Homo sapiens: one gene and its partners. The protein of the gene in region 2 interacts with the protein of the main gene of each other region in a biochemical or structural test. Each region holds a gene or a part of one and is shown on either strand. Other genes may lie near its edges.

Evidence for each region.
Region 1: of the proteins of MMP2 (region 2) and CCN5, one has a biochemical effect on the other in vitro, tested with the Homo sapiens proteins (one study listed by BioGRID).
Region 3: of the proteins of MMP2 (region 2) and BCAN, one has a biochemical effect on the other in vitro, tested with the Homo sapiens proteins (one study listed by BioGRID).

What each region holds. Positions count from the first base shown.
Region 1 is NC_000020.11:44,718,156-44,725,499, reverse strand, and holds part of CCN5 (CCN family member 5 isoform 1 precursor), read right to left. Parts: intron 5,604-7,344; coding exon 5,387-5,603; coding exon of another isoform or gene 5,379-5,386; intron 763-5,378; coding exon 508-762; intron 1-507.
Region 2 is NC_000016.10:55,503,198-55,507,191, reverse strand, and holds the end of MMP2 (72 kDa type IV collagenase isoform 1 preproprotein), read right to left. Parts: intron 1,854-3,994; coding exon 1,750-1,853; 3' UTR 501-1,749; downstream 1-500.
Region 3 is NC_000001.11:156,645,117-156,652,116, forward strand, and holds part of BCAN (brevican core protein isoform 1 precursor), read left to right. Parts: exon of another isoform or gene 1-266; coding exon of another isoform or gene 267-393; intron 394-619; exon of another isoform or gene 620-930; coding exon of another isoform or gene 931-938; coding exon 939-1,029; exon of another isoform or gene 1,030-1,684; coding exon 1,685-2,059; intron 2,060-2,391; coding exon 2,392-2,566; intron 2,567-2,866; coding exon 2,867-2,994; intron 2,995-3,451; coding exon 3,452-3,745; intron 3,746-6,339; coding exon 6,340-6,573; intron 6,574-7,000. UniProt on the Homo sapiens protein: May play a role in the terminally differentiating and the adult nervous system during postnatal development. Could stabilize interactions between hyaluronan (HA) and brain proteoglycans.

The DNA of each region.
Region 1 (7,344 bases), on a different chromosome or scaffold from region 2:
TATTGGTTTTAAAGAGGGAGGCCTGGTGACCCTCCACTCCTCTTTCTTTTTTCCTCTTTTTGAGATGAAGTTTCGTGCTTGTCGGCCAGGCTGGAGTGCAGTGGTGTGATCTGGGCTCACTGCAACCTCTGCCTCCCGGGTTCAAGCGATTCTCCTGCCTCAGCCTCCCAAGTAGCTGGGACTACAGATGCCCGCCACCATGCTAGGCTAATTTTTGAATTTTTAGTAGAGACGGGGTTTTCCTATGTCAGCCAGGCTGGTTTCGAATTCCTAACCTCAGGTGATCCGCCCGTCTTGGCCTCCCAACGTACTGGGATTACAAGGGTGAACCACAGCGCCCGGCCCTCCACTCCTCTTTCTTATCTCCCTCCTCAGCCTCCGCCCCTCCCAGCTTCTGATGTGTCCCTGGGTCCTGGTACCCAGGAAGCCGCCCCCCACCCCACCCCCTAGGTGGCCCTTGGCGCCCCCAGGCAGTCCTGCCCTGACCTGGACCACCGCTGCGCTCACCTTGGGCTGGAAGGGGCTGGGTCCCCAGTCCCCCTCCTTGGCCGCACACCCACTCAGGGCAGCACTTGCCCAGGACCTCGACCCTCCTGGGGTGGGGGCAGTCCCAGCTGGGCAGCCGCACATCCTCGCTGCACAGCGGCACGCAGGTGAAGCCGCCGTCCTCGCAGCGGCAGCGGATGCTGCAGTGGGGCTGGAAGGTCTCCCCTTCCCGATACAGGCGGCCGTTCACCTCACAGCTGCTGTCGTCCTCTGCCACTGCGGAGGAAAAACCGCACCCCCATCGGTGACCCGCAAAGCGGCACAGCCTTCTCTGCAGAGCTGCCCAGATCCCGCTGCCTGAGGCAGCTGCCTCACAGTAGCTGGGCCCTGCCCAGGGCTCCAGCCCAGGATATGCACCTCTCCCCAGCCCTCCACCAGCCTGCTGGGGCACCCTGGATCCCGGCACAGGGATTGCAAGAAGACAGGCCTGGATTGACCCCCCAAACTCTGCCCTTTCTTAGCTGTGAACCTGGGCCAAGTGATTTCACTTCTTCTTGCCTCAGTTTCCACATTTGCAAGCTGGGATATAATGGTACTTATTTTCCAGGGTGGTAGAGACTACTCGGAATGATAGGCGTAATGATCACAACATAAAAGAGACCTTCCATAGGTCCTAGCTACTCTGTTATTATCATTAGTATAGTTACTATATATTAATAAAGTTTAAGTATTCTATACACGCTGAGATTTCATGCAACAAAGTCGTTGTCCACTTGTGCTGTCATCACTGTCAGGTCAGGGCTTAACTTGCTGGCTGTGTGTCTTTGAGTAAGTTACTTAACTTCTCTGAGTGGCCTGAACTACAGCAATGATGAGCTCAGTAATCGTAACTTCAGGTTCCATGGGATGACATGTCCGTACCCTCTAGCACACAGTGCTAGGCATGGCCTAGGTGCTCAGGGAACACTCTTTCAATGAAGCCCTCAAGATATGGGTGTTATTGCCACTTCCTCCACTGGACATGAACTCCTTGAGGGCTGGGGCGGCCAGTGTGCGTCTCTGCACCCTCCGGTGGGCTCAGAGCCTAGGTGCGACACACAGTACTGTAGGAATGCCCCTTCAGTGAATAGCTGGCATAAGCCTTGGCACATGAGAGACCCTGATAAAATAGCCCTACTCCTTATCATTCCAGAGATATTTACTGTTTCCCGCCTGTGTGCCAACCACTGTGCTCCCAGACAGAAAGAGGACAGTTCCTGCCTTGAGGGACTCATGGGCTTGGGAAAGGGGGACGGGTGTGAGGGCATCATCTCCAAGACAGAATGAAGTAAGAGCGCTGGTGAAGCGTGTGAGCTGCTCAGGAAGTGCAGACGGGAAACAGCGTGTGTGTGAGACCTGGGTGGCCACTGAGCTACGTCTGGGGAAAGGACTCATTAGCAAACAAGTTCTCCCAGATCTTCTGAGAAAACCTTCCAGTAGGTCTGTACACACACAGGGGTTTCAGAACCAAAACCACACATACTTAGGTTCCAACTCTGGCTCCCACTTGTGGGGCCTGGGGCAAGTTATTTTGCCTCTCTGAGCCTTGGTACCCGGCTCACAGGGCTGCTGGGGGATTAGATGAGCTAGGGGACTTACAGCATTTTGCCCCAAGCCTGGCACATAGCAGATGCTCAATAAACAGGAGAGGGTTATGCTTCCACGTAGCATCTGCTATGTGCCAGGCTTGGGGCAAAATGCTGTAAGTCCCCTAGCTCATCTAATCCTCCAGCAGGGAAGGCCTTGCTGAGAAATAATGCTGGTAGAGGGAACAGCCAGTGCAAAGGCCCTGAGGCACGAGTGTGCCTGGGGTATTTAAGGAACAGCAAGGGGCCAATGTGGCTGGAGCAGAGAGCAGGAGGAGAGGAGGTCAGAGAGGAAGCATGAACAGGATCCTGTTGGGGCCTTGTAGGCCACTGTGGGGACTTTGGCTTTTCCTCTGAGATGGGAAGCCACCAGAAGGCTTGGGGCAGAGGAGGGAGGTGATCTGGCTTATGACTTCCCAGGAGCTCTCTGACTGCTGTGTTGTGAATAGACCAGGGGCAACGACAGAAGGAGGGAGATGATTATGGGGCTACTGCAAAATCCAGGCCAATGATGACGGGGCTCAGACCAGAAGGGATGGGAGTGTCGGATGCTGGAAATACACGATGAATTTGCTGGTGGGTGGTATGTGGGAGGTGAGAAAAGAGAGATGTCTAGACCGGCTGTGGTGGCTCATACCTATAATCCCAGCACTTAGGGAGGCCGAGGCGGGTGGATCACTTGAGGTCAGGAGTTCCAGACCAGCCTGGCCAACATGGTGAAACCCCGTCTCTACTGAAATACTAAAATACAAAAATTAGCGAGGCATGGTGGTATGTGTCTGTAATCCCAGCTACTTGGGAGGCTGAGGCGTGAGAATCGCTTGAACGCAAGAGATGGGGTTACAGTGAGCTGAGATCCTGCCACTGCACACCAGCCTGGGTGAAAGAGTGAGACTCCATCTCAAAAAAAAAAAAAAAAAAAAGAGAGAGAGATAGAGAGACCTCTAGAACGACTCCCAGGTCTTGAGTCTGAGCCATGAGAAGGATGGAGGTGCTCTCAACAGACTGGGGAGGCCGTTCTGGGGGGCGGAAGATCAGGATCCCGGCATTGGATGCGCTGTTATCACGATGGTGAATCTGCAGCACATCTCACAGCTCAGAGTTGGCCCTTAGAGAAGAGCGTTCAACGAGTAAGTGATGGGAGAGGTTTTTGGCAGTATGTTCCCTGCAAAGCCCTAGACTGAGCCTTTGTGATGTCTTAGCTGGACTCTTTGGGGTTCACCAGTTCCCGGCCTCTAAATTCAGTTTAAATCATTAAACACTGTTGAGCACCCATCATGTTGACAGACCAAGGTGGGAAGTTGCAGGAAGGACCAGGGACCCAAGTACGCCTTTGGCCTGCAGGTGTTTGAAGTCTGAATTAAGATGGAATAAGAAAAATCCCTTAATACAGTTATTAACAATCACAGCCTATGTACTAATCAACTGCTGCATGTCAGGCAGTTGAGCAATGGAGCTTGTGGAGCCAGCTCCCTGAGTTCAAATCTCAGCTCTGCCGCTTATGAGCTGTGTGACCTTGGGCAAGTTGCTTAGCCTCTCTGTACCCCTTTTTTCCATTTATAAGAGAAGGGTACCTACCTCATGTGGTTGTGAGATTAAATGAGTTTATATTTGTGAAACCCTCAGTGTCTTACACGTGGTAAGGGCTGTGCAAGTGTAAAATAAACTCTGTGGGTGCTGTTTACACGTGTCACAGCAAATGTAAATAACAGCTTTGTAAGCGAAGTGTTACTTATCTCAATTGTTCTTCAGATACATTTTCATAAGCAATCATCCCTCAGTCAGTGTAACGAATCACCCTCCTTATCCTTACAGTACTTGTAAATAAAGCATTTCACATGGAGTTATTACTTTTTTTTTTTTTTTTTTTTTTTTTTGGAGATAGGGTTTGGTCTGTTGCCCGGGCTGGAATGTAGTGGCGCAACCATGGCTCACTGCAGCCTCAAACACCCAGGCTCAAGCGAGCCTCTCACCTCAGCCTCTCAAGTAGCTGGGACCACAGGCATGTGCCACCACACCCGGCTAATTTTTTTTTTTTTTTTTTGATAGAGAGAGGATCTTACTATGTTGCCAAGGCTGGACTAGAACTCCTGGGCTCAAGTGGTCGTCCCGCCTCAGTCTCCCAAACTGATAGGATTATAGGCATGAGTCACTGTGCCTGGCCTGTTGTTTTTTAACAAGGCTTTTCCTACAGATGAATTCATTATCAATGATTCATGAGCTTCTCTCTCTCTCTCTTTCGTTCTTATTTTTATAAAAGTGTGACATGCACATAGATGAAAGAGGCAAATTGTTCTACAAGGCTTATTATTAAAAAAGAAAAAAGAAGAACAATCTCTTGCCTCTTTGCATTTCTCTAAAGTGATGGTTCCCAACTGGAGATTTTGCCCCCTGGGGAAATTTGGCACTGTCTGAAGACAGACTGTCATGACTTGGGGGATGGGGAGTGCTGCTGGCATACAGTGGGTGGAGTTCGGGGATGCTGCTAGAAGTCTTACCATGCACAGGACAGCCCTCCCACAACAACTAATTCTCTGGCACCCAGTCACTGGAGCCAGCTTGCAAAGCCCTGCCCCGAAGCATCAGAGAATACCAAGGCCTAGAAGAGTGGTGAGGAATGTCACATGCTCGGGTGACTGCTGAATACATGGCAAACCCAGGATCCCAGCAGTGCTCCGAGGGCCCCCACTATGGGAGAAGACAGAATAAACTGTTCCTTAGAGCCCGTTGGATCTGGTCCCGTGCCGTGTGACATGAAGCATGTCCCTTAATGCTGGTGAACCTGTTTCCTCATTCATAAAATAGGTCTGAAAGTACTTCCCATCATAGGGTTATTGTGAGGATGATGTGACTTGTGTAGTAAGTGCTTAGCACAGTTCTGGACACATATTATGCCCTAAAAGGTTGCACTTTTATTTTCCCCAAAGTGTTGTAAGGATCCTGAGAAGGGAGTGGTGGCATCTGGTTTGAAGAATCTGGGGGGGCTTCTCAGGGGAGAAGCTGTTTGAACTTGGCTTTGAAAGTTGGCAATGATTTGGACAGGTAGGGATGGGGAAAGGTTATTGGGGTAGTGAGATGGTTTAAGCAGAGGCCAAGAAGGGAGAGGAGGGAGTGGGGAGTGGGCTTTGGGACACCAAGTTCAGCTGGAATGGATGGGATACCTGAAGTGAGCACCCAAGGAGGTAGAGAGAGGAGGGCTGCACTTTGATCCAGGACACCACGGCCTTGACCTCCCGCTCACACCCGCCCCCACTCAGTCCTGCAAACCTGCTTACAGAGGCACAGGGCCCCCCGGCCACCGGGTCCTGCCCCGGGCTGGCAGACCAGGCCCTGGCTGGCGTCGCAGACGTGGAGTTGGTCGCAGGGCTCCCCCAGCCGCCGTGCACATACCCGGCAGCAGCCACAGCCATCCAGCACCAGGGGTACTCCCAGCGGGCATCGGGGAGGTGGCCAGGGGCAGGTACATGGTGTCGGGCACAGCTGGGTACGCACCTGAAGAGACAGAGACCTCACTCAGCCACGGGCTTTCGAGGTGGGCAGTGAGACCCTCACAACCAGCCACTTCTCTGCCAGGCTGGGTAGTGTGGTGTCCACACCTTAGCCTCAGAGCCATGCAGACCTGGCCTCAAAGGCCAGTAGTCCCACAACATGCCCTAAGAGGCAGTATGGCATGTAGTTATGGGCAAGGACTCTGGACTAGAGTTCCAGTTCTTTATTTTTTATTTTTATTTTTGGAGTCAGAGTCTGGCTCTGTTGCCCAGGCTGGAGTGCAGTGGCGCGATCCCAGCCTCACTTCAACCTCCACCTCCTGGGTTCAAGCGACTCTCGTGCCTCAGCCTCCCGAGTAGCTGGGACTACAGGCGCCCACCACCATGCCTGGCAATTTTTGTATTTTTAATAGAGATGGGGTTTCACCATGTTACCCAGGCTGGTCTTGAAATCCTGAGCTCAGGCAATCCGCCCGCCTCGGCCTCCCAAAGTGCTGGGATTATAGGCATGAGCCACTGCACCTGGCTAGACTTCCAGTTCTAATTCTGCCCCTTATTAGCTGAGTGACCTTGAGGAAGTTACTTAAGCATTCTGAGCCTCAGTTTCCTCAAAGTATCTAACTCAGAGGATTGCTCTGAGGAGTACATGAAATGCTGCACAGCAAACCCTCAGCACAGGGCCTGGCATGCAGTAGGCGCTCACTGCACTTAGCTTTGATGATCCTTGTTGTTAATGGTGGCAGAGGGCTCAGCCCCAGCCCTCTGGGAGCTTACAGAAAGGCAAAAGCAACAAGTCAAGGATGAAAATGGTAGGGTCTGGTACATTTTCCAGCATACGGATACTTATCTTAGGACTGAATAAATTGAACCATATCATGGATGTTTTTGGCCTTTCGATCCATTCAGCATGTGTCCCAGCTCTGGAGGTACATCACATCAGCCAGGAGACTTGGGAAAATACAGACCCCCAACCCACTCTGGGGCTTACAAAATCAGAAGTCCCAGAGTCAGGGACCTGGAATCTTTATTTTTAATAAGCTGTCCAGTGGCTTCTGAAGCTCAGCTAGGTTTTCAGCACCTCTGCCCCAGTCTAACCTCCTCCCCCTGCCAGGTACGGATGGGGAAACTGAGCTCCAGAGAGGGACAGGAACTTAGCACACGTCAGTGTGTTCGATTCAGGGCTGGGAGCGTCCCCGGTCCTGCTTCCCAAGTGAGGACTCAGGGACACGGGATGGGGGTAGACTGTGTCCGTAAGCCAGGGACCCACTCCCCAGAGACAGGATCAGGGTATCAGCCCATGTGGCCTGCCTGACCCTCGCCACCCACATCAGAGAAACAACCAAAGCATACAGCAGGTGCCGTGAGCTCCCTGTCTGCCCATTTGAAGGTGGGGACCAAGAAGGAAGTATAATTCAAGATGCTTCCAGTGGCCCCATCTTTGGGGGGCCAAGTTTGAGTTTAGTAGGATCCTTAGGGGATGAGGGTTTCATCTAGAGGAATGGAGGCTTGCAGTTTATAATGATGGAATTAATGACCTCATATCTCCTGTGCAGCCCCAAAGCAGGCAATGACCCCTTTGCTCTGCCTCACCCTCTGCCCCGCCCAGTGCCCCCACTACCCACAATCCTGCAAACCTGCTTTCAGTTCCCGGCAACTCCCACGCCGGCCACTAGGAGCCATTGCAAACTGGCTGACCAGCCTCTGGTGGGGGCCACAAAGTAGGAGGCGATCACAGCCCCCACTGA
Region 2 (3,994 bases):
AAAAGAGATAGAAACAATGACATCAGGCTCACTGAGGAGGTCACCTGTAGAGTTCACTCCTTACGCACCTTCCTCACCAGCCCCATCATAAGAGGCCAGAAGCAATATATATACTATCAATCAGACTATCGGAGCCAGAAAGGGCCTCAGAAAAACCCCAGGCCTTCAATTTCTGTTCAGCAGTAGCTCCAGAATTTCTATGTAGGAGATTAGGAGTGGGTAGACTGGTAGGAAGGAGTAAGGAGCTTATCCATTAATACCAGCTGTGTTTAGAAGCAAGCACAGTATTTCTCCCTTAGCTGTGTTTACCCAGCGTGGTTTTGGGGGTGGTGGAGGGTAGCAGGAGCGGTTTTGAAGGTGGTGGGGGTGTTTTTGAGGGTGGCGGAGGGTGGTGAGATTCTGGTTTGAGAGCTAAAGCTCCTCTGCTAGGCTATCCTTTGGCCTTGTAGGTCCCTAATAGCTATGGGACCCTGGAAAAATCACTTCTCTTGAGCCATCAGTCTCTTCATCAATAAGATTCAACTAATAATGGCCTTTTTTATTTATGTGGTTGGAAAGGTTAAAATAGGTGACACGTGAAAAGTGCCTTGCACATAGAAAGCACTCTATTAATTGAGGGGGATATTATTGTTACTGTTCATTGTTAGTAGTAGCATTAAAACTGATATGATTGCTAATGAAGAAACAGACTTAAAGAGGAAGCAAACCTCGAACAGATGCCACAATAAAGCAACAAAATTGCTGATTCTTCAGGGCTCTTTCTACAGGACAGAGGGACTAGAGCTTACTCTCCCTGAGGTTCTCTTGCTGTTTACTTTGGAAGCTCTGACCTTTCCAGCAGACACCATCACCTGTGCCCTGCAGGGAGCAGAGATTCGGACTTTTTAAGTTTCCGCTTCTGGCTGGGTCTGTGGCCCTTGTCTAGGCTCTGCTAAAACAGATGGCAAACACGGCCACTCAGTAGGTGTCTTTATTCATACTTGTTGACATTTCCCATGGGGAATGGTTGAAGGGAGGGGCAGGGAGGGCTGAGCGGGAAGCCACGGCTTGGTTTTCCTCCATCCAGTGGAGAAGAGACTCGGTAGGGACATGCTAAGTAGAGTGAACAGGGGAACCATCACTATGTGGGCTGAGATGCACTGTGCAGTGACTTCAGACAACCTGAGTCCTTCTGTCAGGAAATGCAATTTCTAAGTGGAAAAAAAAAACAAGACCCAAAGAAAAAAACAAAGTGCATACAAAGCAAACTGCTAATGTAAGAAAGGTTCTAAGGCAGCCAGCAGTGAAAAGCCAGGGGTCTGGAGTGGCCACCTGGCCATGCCCTGTCCCACTGCCCTGTGCCAGGCTGTCGGGCCACCAGTGCCCTCTTGAGACAGTCTCCATTGGCTCCAAGGGTTCTGTGAGCCACAGAAGGTTGTGAAAGGAGAAGAGCCTGAAGTGTGGCAGCACCAGGGCAGCCCAAAGCAGGGCTGCGTTGAAAATATCAAAGTATCTCTTTAGGGGTGGCTCTGAGGGTTGGTGGGATTGGAGGGGGAAGGGGCGCCTGGGAGGAGTACAGTCAGCATCTATTCTTGGGCACCGGGAGGAGCCACTCTCTGGAATCTTAAATTACCAGGTAGGAGTGAGAATGCTGATTAGCTGTAGAGCTGAAGGCACGGCTGCCAGGCCCCTCCGGGTCCTTCTCTAGTTCTCCAGGCCCGGTGTATCGAAGGCAGTGGAGAGGAAGGGCCTGTGGGAGCCAGGGCCAGCTCAGCAGCCTAGCCAGTCGGATTTGATGCTTCCAAACTTCACGCTCTTCAGACTTTGGTTCTCCAGCTTCAGGTAATAGGCACCCTTGAAGAAGTAGCTGTGACCTGGGATAGAGAAAGAAGAGACCGTGACCCCCTTATCCTGACATTCTGGCACACAGAAGGTTCCTGGGAACTTTGAATTTCTGCCTGGCATAGGGAAGAAGCTTTTAAACGAGAAGAGAGCTTTGAAAGGCTGAGGCAGGAGGATTGCTTGAGCCCAGGAGTTCGAGACCAGCTTGGGCAGCATAGAGAGACCCCCATTTCTACGAAAAACATATTTAAATTAGCTGGGTATAGTGGTACATTCCTGTAGTCCAAGCTACTTAGGAGGCTGACGTGGGAGGGTCGCTTAAGCCCAGGAGTTCGAGGCTGCAGTGAGCTATGATTGTGCCTCTAGCCTGGGTGATAGAGCAAGACCTTGTCCCCCCGCCAAAAAAAAAACTCAACTGTGGCGGGGCGCGGTGGCTCACGCCTGTAATCCCAGCACTTTGGGAGGCCGAGACGGGCAGATCACGAAGTCAGGAGATCAAGACCATCCTGGCTAACATGGTGAAACCTCGTCTCTACTAAAAATACAAAAAATTAGCCGGGCGTGGTGGTAGGCGCCTGTAGTCCCAGCTACTCGGGAGGCTGAGGCAGGAGAATGGTGTGAACCCAGTAGGCGGAGCTTGCAGTGAGCCAAGATCGCGCCACTGCACTCCAGCCTGGGCGACAGAGGGAGACTCTGTCTCAAAAAAAAAAAAAAAAAAATTCAATTGTTTCAATCTGAGCTGATTGAAGAAAAGAAAACAAAAACAAAACCAAAACACAACAAAAGCCCAGAAGAGCCCCCTCTGGGAGTGGAAGAAGGGAAATGGCTGTGAAATAAGCTCTTTTATTCCCTGTTTGCTCATCTCTAAGATGAGGATAAAGATTATCAACCTTCTAGGGCTTGCAGTGAGCATTAAGTCAGATAACATATGCTATTATTAAAAACAATAACTCCACTTAACACAAGCATCAAACTAAGCACATTCCATGTACCAGAGGTGGCAAAACAGGATATATCCAGTCCTGTCAGGCCCACAGATGGGTTTTATTTGACTCTCACAAGTTTGTTTTGTTTTGTCTTTAAATCTGAATAACTTGCCAACATGTAAACATCCAAAAAGTCACACAGAAGTACAGATTTCTGGCTTCCTTTAAAAAAACTAGAATATCTAATATAGAATATCTAACAACACCAGGCCCCATTCTTTTTTTTTGAGACCAGGTCTCACTCTGTCACCCAGTCTGGAATGCAGCGGCATGAACACGGCTCACTGCAGCCTTAAACTCCTGGGCTCAAGCGATCCTCTCTGCTCACCCTCCCCAGTAGCTGGGACTACAGGTATGCGCCGTCATGTGTAGCTAATGTTTTTTAAAATTTTTTTGTAGAGATAGAGTCTCACTATGTTGCCCAGGCTGGTCTCAAACTCCTGCGCTCAAGCAGTTCTCCTGCCTTGGCCTCCCAGAGTGCTGGGATGACAGGTGTGAACCATGGCAGCTGCCTAGGCCCCTAATCTTGCCCGCCAATAATTATCTGAAGGTGAGAAGAAAGTGTCTCCTGTAAATGAGGCATGTGCTCTGATTCCGCACAGACTCCACAGTTCCCCACTGTCTGCCCCTGCCTGCTTTACTCATTTGTGCTACCTGCCTGACACATGGAGCTGTTGGAGTTTGTGACTCCTGACATACATAATCTCATTTACTATTAATATGCTAGCATGTAGTAGGTGCTCAATAGATGTTTATTCTTGAAGATAACTCCTAATCTAGCATCTGATTGTACACTGCATTTTCTTGGACATGTAAGACCTTCAGCTACTGGAGGTCAGGGCCTGTGCTTAGCATACAGTAGGTGCTCAAAAAAAAAAAAATCTGTGGAATTTAGTTGAAATCTCCTCTAAAAAAAGCCAAACTGGACCCATTTCCAGGACCCTAGAAAGCTCACAGATGCCTCCTCAAGAGTATGATTTTCAAACTCCAAATTCTATCCCTCGCTGCTACTGGTTGTGTTTTAATCAGCAGGGGGCCAGGGGCAAACTGGTTGAGTGGAGGATCTTTGCCACATGAGCAACAGAGCATGACAAAGTTTGCCTTGTCTCAAATGGAGCCATCCTTCTGCTAATGGGAGGTGGTCACAGGCCTCCTGCAAAACGCAAATGGGCCTGGATCAAACCCCA
Region 3 (7,000 bases), on a different chromosome or scaffold from region 2:
GTTCTAGAGCTTCTGATAGCCAGGGGTAGGAAGGGGTAGCCCCTCCCATTTATTCTCCCCCCCCTTAGTCCACCCTCCAGCCCAAGGCTTTCACAAAAGGTAGGGTGGGGGAAGGGAGGGGCTGGATAGAGGCCAGACTGGCAGAGACAGGGGCTTTGTCCCAACTGATTTCTGAGCCAAGAGTTCCGGTGGGAAAGCCCGTGCCAGGCAGAAAGGAGAGGCTGGGAAGAAGAAGGGAGGAGGCAGCCAAGGAAGGGGGATGGAGAATGTTGGGGAGTAAAGAGAGGAGTTTCCTTACAAATAATGGTGGGGAGGAAGTAGAGGAGAGGGTGGGCTCAGGAGAAGCTGTGCTTACTTGCGTTCGGTCTAGGAGGCCCTCCTGGAAAAGGCCAGGTGAGTATGGTGTCCCTGGAGGCAGGGACAGTCTAGAAGGCAGAAGAGGCTAAAGAGATACTATGGGAGAAGGCTCTGGGTTCGAGGAAGGAGTCTGGCACTGGGAGGAGCAGATGGAATTCTGAGTATAAGAGCACCCACCATTCATGCTGTAAACTGAGCTCCTACTGTCTGCCTGGTGCTATGCATTTGTACAGGAGTTTTAAGATACTAAACACTCTCAAAGCACATGGTCCTATCTCAACTCATGAGATAGTAATGATGATGCTTTTTTATAAGTAAGAAAATAAAGGCTCAGAGAAGGTAAGGAGCTTGGCTTAGGTCACACAGTGAGTTGACTAGGACTCGGGTTTTGGTTCTGAGAAGAAATCACTTGCTGGGAAGATGGGGATCAGAAACAGAGAGTCCATGGTGATGTGAAGGTAGGGGACTTCTGGAGCCAGGATATGTGTGAACCCACATGGGTGTGGTAGGGAGCAGGGGGGAAGTCCATCCTGAAGTCTAACCCCATCTTTCCTTCTCATGTCCCTCTGTCAGCCTGCAGCATGGCCCAGCTGTTCCTGCCCCTGCTGGCAGCCCTGGTCCTGGCCCAGGCTCCTGCAGCTTTAGCAGATGTTCTGGAAGGAGACAGCTCAGGTAAGCAACCCCACTTGGGGTCACCGTCTCTGTCTTGTTCAGCCCTAACCAACTGCTTCCAGGCTTAGGGGCCCCAGGAAGAGAGAGAATTGGAGGGCTGTGGGGAAGCGTCCAGGCTGGAACACTTGGAAATAAGGGCTGAGCTGTGAGCATCTGGTGGGTTGGAGAAATCATGGGGCAGGACTAGGGAAGGGCACTGGGTGCAAGGCTTTGGGCCCCTAAGGTGGAGGATAGGGGATCCTGAAGCTAGGAGGTGGGAAAGGGGTGGAACTGGGAGAAACCCTGAAGGAGGCCCTAAAGGGAGCAGACTGGGAAACTGGGCTGGAGGACTCAGGGGGCGAGGTTGGAGGACCCTGGGGTGTGGTCTAGGAATTTTGGAGAGGAAGTGGAAGACTCTGAGAGCAGGGCAAGGAATCCTGGGGGCTGAATTGACTGGGAGACTTTGGGGGATGGGTCTGGAGACCGTCGGGGTGGTCCTGGAGGACCTAGAGGTAGGGCTGCAGGACCCTGGCCCCTGGCCCCTGGCCCCTGGTCCTAGGGGGGCCGGGGAATCCTGGGGCCGGAAGGAGGGATCCTGGAGCGGGGCTTGGAGGCCACCGGGTGGGACTCTGAGGGTCGACAGCGTTAAGTTCCAGCCGGCTCCACCCGTTCACAGAGGACCGCGCTTTTCGCGTGCGCATCGCGGGCGACGCGCCACTGCAGGGCGTGCTCGGCGGCGCCCTCACCATCCCTTGCCACGTCCACTACCTGCGGCCACCGCCGAGCCGCCGGGCTGTGCTGGGCTCTCCGCGGGTCAAGTGGACTTTCCTGTCCCGGGGCCGGGAGGCAGAGGTGCTGGTGGCGCGGGGAGTGCGCGTCAAGGTGAACGAGGCCTACCGGTTCCGCGTGGCACTGCCTGCGTACCCAGCGTCGCTCACCGACGTCTCCCTGGCGCTGAGCGAGCTGCGCCCCAACGACTCAGGTATCTATCGCTGTGAGGTCCAGCACGGCATCGATGACAGCAGCGACGCTGTGGAGGTCAAGGTCAAAGGTGAGAGGGCAGGGAGGTTCCAGAGGGAGGGAGGGAGGGAGGGAAGGGAGGACTCTTGCCTTCGGGGATCCCACAGTGTGAGAGGGAAGCAAAGGTAGCTGGAAGGCGCAGCCTGGGTTGGAAAAAGAGTGAGGAGACACGGGCCTTTGTTGTCTCCTTTCTCTCTTCAGGTGGAGGACATTCTACCCACAATCTAACTTAAGTCCCTCATGCTGTAGAGTGAGCACAATTGAACTTTATTTACCCTTGTGTACAGAGGAGTGACAAGGAGGGTGAGGGGAGGCCAGCGTGCTGGGTGCTCACCTGGCTCAGGGGTCCTCTCTGCCCCACAGGGGTCGTCTTTCTCTACCGAGAGGGCTCTGCCCGCTATGCTTTCTCCTTTTCTGGGGCCCAGGAGGCCTGTGCCCGCATTGGAGCCCACATCGCCACCCCGGAGCAGCTCTATGCCGCCTACCTTGGGGGCTATGAGCAATGTGATGCTGGCTGGCTGTCGGATCAGACCGTGAGGTGGGCAGGGGCTGTGGATTGGGGCTTCTATTGGCCCCTGAGGTGGCCATGGCCCCCCTTCTGCTGGGTGCTGCCTGCTGTGTCAGGCTGGACATGCAGGGCTTTTTGCCTCTGGGGGATGAGGCTGGTCTGAGGAGGGGAGGTGAGGACCCTGAGCATGTGCATCCCTGCAGTGCTAGAAGGACAGCCAGCTGTCAGCAAGTGTCTGCACTGTGGTGGCAGTGGGGTTCAATAGAATCAATATGGGCTGGCTCCCTGGTGAAAGCATCTGTACTAAGTGATTCTGTCCTTCCTCCCTAGGTATCCCATCCAGACCCCACGAGAGGCCTGTTACGGAGACATGGATGGCTTCCCCGGGGTCCGGAACTATGGTGTGGTGGACCCGGATGACCTCTATGATGTGTACTGTTATGCTGAAGACCTAAATGGTGATTAGGAGTGAGAGGTTCCCAGGGGACAATTTCCTACTCCCATGCTGCCCATAGGTCCTCCCGGGGCCTCTGCAGGACCTTACTATCCCTCCTGAGTTTAAGGGGGCAAGCAGGAGTAAGGAGACAATTGGTGTCCCTCTCTCCAAACACTGTCACAGAGGCAAGCTCATGACCAAAGTCTCAGCCAGGCAGCAGGATACCGAGTTTAACTCATCTACCACCTGCCAGGTGGACTCTGTGCATGACTCTGCAGAACAAGAAGTTTGGGCCCCATCTCTTTGAGCTCTAATATCCATCTTGAGGTTCTATTCAGACTATGATCCTATGAAGTAGAGTAGTTGACTCCCTGCCACAGATGAGGGAACTGGAGAAGCTTGCCCAGGGTTCCCATGGGAGACCAGAGTGGAAGGAGCTACCAGCTGCCTGATAACCCAGCCTTCTCTTCTCCACCCAGGAGAACTGTTCCTGGGTGACCCTCCAGAGAAGCTGACATTGGAGGAAGCACGGGCGTACTGCCAGGAGCGGGGTGCAGAGATTGCCACCACGGGCCAACTGTATGCAGCCTGGGATGGTGGCCTGGACCACTGCAGCCCAGGGTGGCTAGCTGATGGCAGTGTGCGCTACCCCATCGTCACACCCAGCCAGCGCTGTGGTGGGGGCTTGCCTGGTGTCAAGACTCTCTTCCTCTTCCCCAACCAGACTGGCTTCCCCAATAAGCACAGCCGCTTCAACGTCTACTGCTTCCGAGGTGAGCCCACCTCCCTGCAGAAGCTGAGACCAATCTCAGAAAGGCAGAGTTGAGTCCTAAAAGTCCTACCCCAGTCTGATCAGTTTAGCTCAGGGCTTTGCCATTTGCCTGAAGTGGTCGTGGGTGAAGTCCAGCTTGTCATCTAGGGTTCTAATTCTGGGCATGCCCTCTGGTGTGGTGTCTGTCAGCTGTTTGGCCCAAGGAGTAGTCACCTTTTGGCCTCTCCTTATCTGCCTTCCCACCAGTAGTCCATGCCTTGTTTGCTCCAGCTGGGCTGCTGAATAAGCTCCCATCTCCTGTCAGCTTATTGGCAGAGCAAAGACGACCAACATTCTGTGAATTCAATGAGTAATCTGCCCAAGTTCTTCCAGTCAACAACCAAATGCCCTCAGGAGCCCTCTGGAGGATTTCCAGAAACTACAGCTTAAGAAGGTGTCAGATCTTTAACTACCAAATACTGGTGGATGGATACAATTCCCCCAAAAGGGAGCAAGACCTTAAGTACAGTTGGGAATAGAGATAGCTTTCTGCCCACATCTTATGGCTTGTTTCTTTTTTTGAGACAGGGTCTCACTCCGTCCCCCAGGCTGGAGTGCAGTGGTGTGATCATGGTTCATTGTAGCCTCAACCTCCCTGGGCTCAGGGGATCCTTCCACTTCAACCTCCGGAGTAGGTGGGACCACAGGCTTATGCCACCATGTCTAGCAAATTTTTGTAATTTTTGTAGAGATGGGGTTTCACCACATGCCCAGGCTGGTCTTGAACTCCTGAGCTCAAGCAATCTACCTATCTTGGACTCCCGAAGTGCTGGGATTTATAGGTGTGAGCCACTGCACCCAAACCTGCCCATATCTTATGTTGGGAGCTGGAGCGGGAGGCAGTTTCTGGGACTCTCAGATGCAAAAGGCCCAGGCCAAGGGTGACCGACAATAAGAGAGGCATTGCCATGCGGTGTCTCGGTCCTTCCCCAGTTTTAAGCCTGAAATACTGTTACAAGAGCTGGAAGCAGAAATGGAAGGAGCAGACACAGCCTTGAACCTCAGGGAGCACTTGGTCTGAAGGATGAAGACACAGCTTTTGCCATGGGAACCCCCAGCAAAGGGAAGACAAGATGCCTCACTCCCAGGATGAGGAGAGACTGAGAGAAAAGCATTACTTCCATTTGGACAGATCTGTGGACATATTTGGCTGGGGTTGGGGAGGGGTGGGGAAGTAAAAGTCCATAGGAAGACAGGTCCATCTGAAAAGACCTCCTGGAACAGGGGTAGTAGTAGTAGTAGTAGTAGTAGTAATAATAATAATAGTAATAGCTAAAACTTCTGTGTGCTGGCTATGATTGTGTGCCAAGCCAAGCACTGTTTTGGAAAGAAATGGCCTGGATCATGAGGAGGGGCAGGGGAGGGGGAATATGACTACAGTTGGGACTACGATTGGTGGAGGACACAGGCAGCAAGGACACAAGGTCTGGTGAGGAGTAAGGCTCACTGGAGCAGGTGATGAGGGCAGGGACTCACTGTCCTGTCTTGCCTGGCTGAGCACAGACAGCCCTCAGGACTTTTCTTAGCCCAATTCCACCTTCACTTCATTGGTTTTCTGCTCTTGGCTCCCTTCCCCAGAGGACAAGTAAACCATTCTAAACTTCTGGTTATTTGAAAGGAGTAGGTCCCAGAAGGAGGTGGCCTTTTCCCTTGCCTACTTGCCCCACCACTGAGATCCTCAGGTGATGCCTGAAGTTATTCCTGCACTCTGCCCTCCAGCTATCCTGAGGGGATGACAGCCTCTCCCCTTCTATTTCAAGAATTTTGGAGGCTCGGTGCAGTGGCTCATGCCTGTAATCCCAGCACTTTGGGAGGCCAAGACCACTTGAGGCCAGGAGTTCGAGATCAGCCTGGCAAACACGGGGAAACCCTGTCTCTACTAAAAATACAAAAATTAGCCAGTTACGGTGGCACATGCCTGTAGTCCCAGCTACTTGGGAGGCTGAGACGGGAGAACCGCTTGAATCCAGGAGGCGAAGGTTGCAATGAGCTGGGATCGTGCCACTGCACTCCAGCCTGGGTGACAGAAGGAGACTCTGTCTAAAAAATAAAAGAATTTGGGGATACCTGGGACACCTCACACCTTGCCCCAAGCCCAAGATCACAAGGTGGTAAAGCTATTTCATCCATCCTGCTGGCTCCAGCCCCTCCCCCTAGGGAATATCTCTCACCTGAGCCTTTCCTGACCACTCCAAAGTAGTATTTTCCATCACTCCATCTTCTAACTCTGCTCAAGTGTTCTTTATCTTGTAAGATTATAATATATGTTTGTTTGTCATCTGTTCTAGAATATAATTTCCCTTGAGGGTAGGAGGTTTGCTATTTTGTTCTGCACTGTATCCTCAGTGCCCAGGGGAATGCTTGGCATGACACACTGTAGGCACTTGATGAATGCTTGAGAAATGAGTGACGAAGTTCTGGGATGCTCCCTGGGCCCCAGTAGGTGCTCCACAGGGAAGATGTGAGAGAATTGAGAGAATTCCATGGTGCAAGCTGTGACCTGGGAGGGCAGAGCTACCTATTCAGGCTCGCATCAATACTTTCCTCCTGCCACAGACTCGGCCCAGCCTTCTGCCATCCCTGAGGCCTCCAACCCAGCCTCCAACCCAGCCTCTGATGGACTAGAGGCTATCGTCACAGTGACAGAGACCCTGGAGGAACTGCAGCTGCCTCAGGAAGCCACAGAGAGTGAATCCCGTGGGGCCATCTACTCCATCCCCATCATGGAGGACGGAGGAGGTGGAAGCTCCACTCCAGAAGACCCAGCAGAGGCCCCTAGGACGCTCCTAGGTAAGTCGGATCCCTTATCCTAAGGATGTCTTGATTGAAAGAAGTTGGGGGCAGAAGAGGCAAGCCCAGGTTGATGCTAGGGTGATGGATGACATGACTCTGCCCTGTCCTTTCTCAGTAGCTCAGGGGTGCAGGGCACCTTTCCTGTCCCTCTCCCAACCTTTGCTTTTCCAGTAAATTCCACCCCCAACTCTATGGAGCTAGAGATGCTTGCACTAAGGAGCTGCGCCCTGGAAAGGTGGAACCTGCCTTCTTTGGTCCCTCTTCCGCCTCACACACCCAAAACAGACTAGAGTTTTGACAGAGTAGGAGGGAGACAAATGACCATGTTCTCCGGGGCTAATGATGGCTCACAGAGCCTTCTCAAGTGTTGCCTCAACAATATGGCTGGGGTCAAGTTCTTCCAGTGTGGCGCAAGGACCACCTG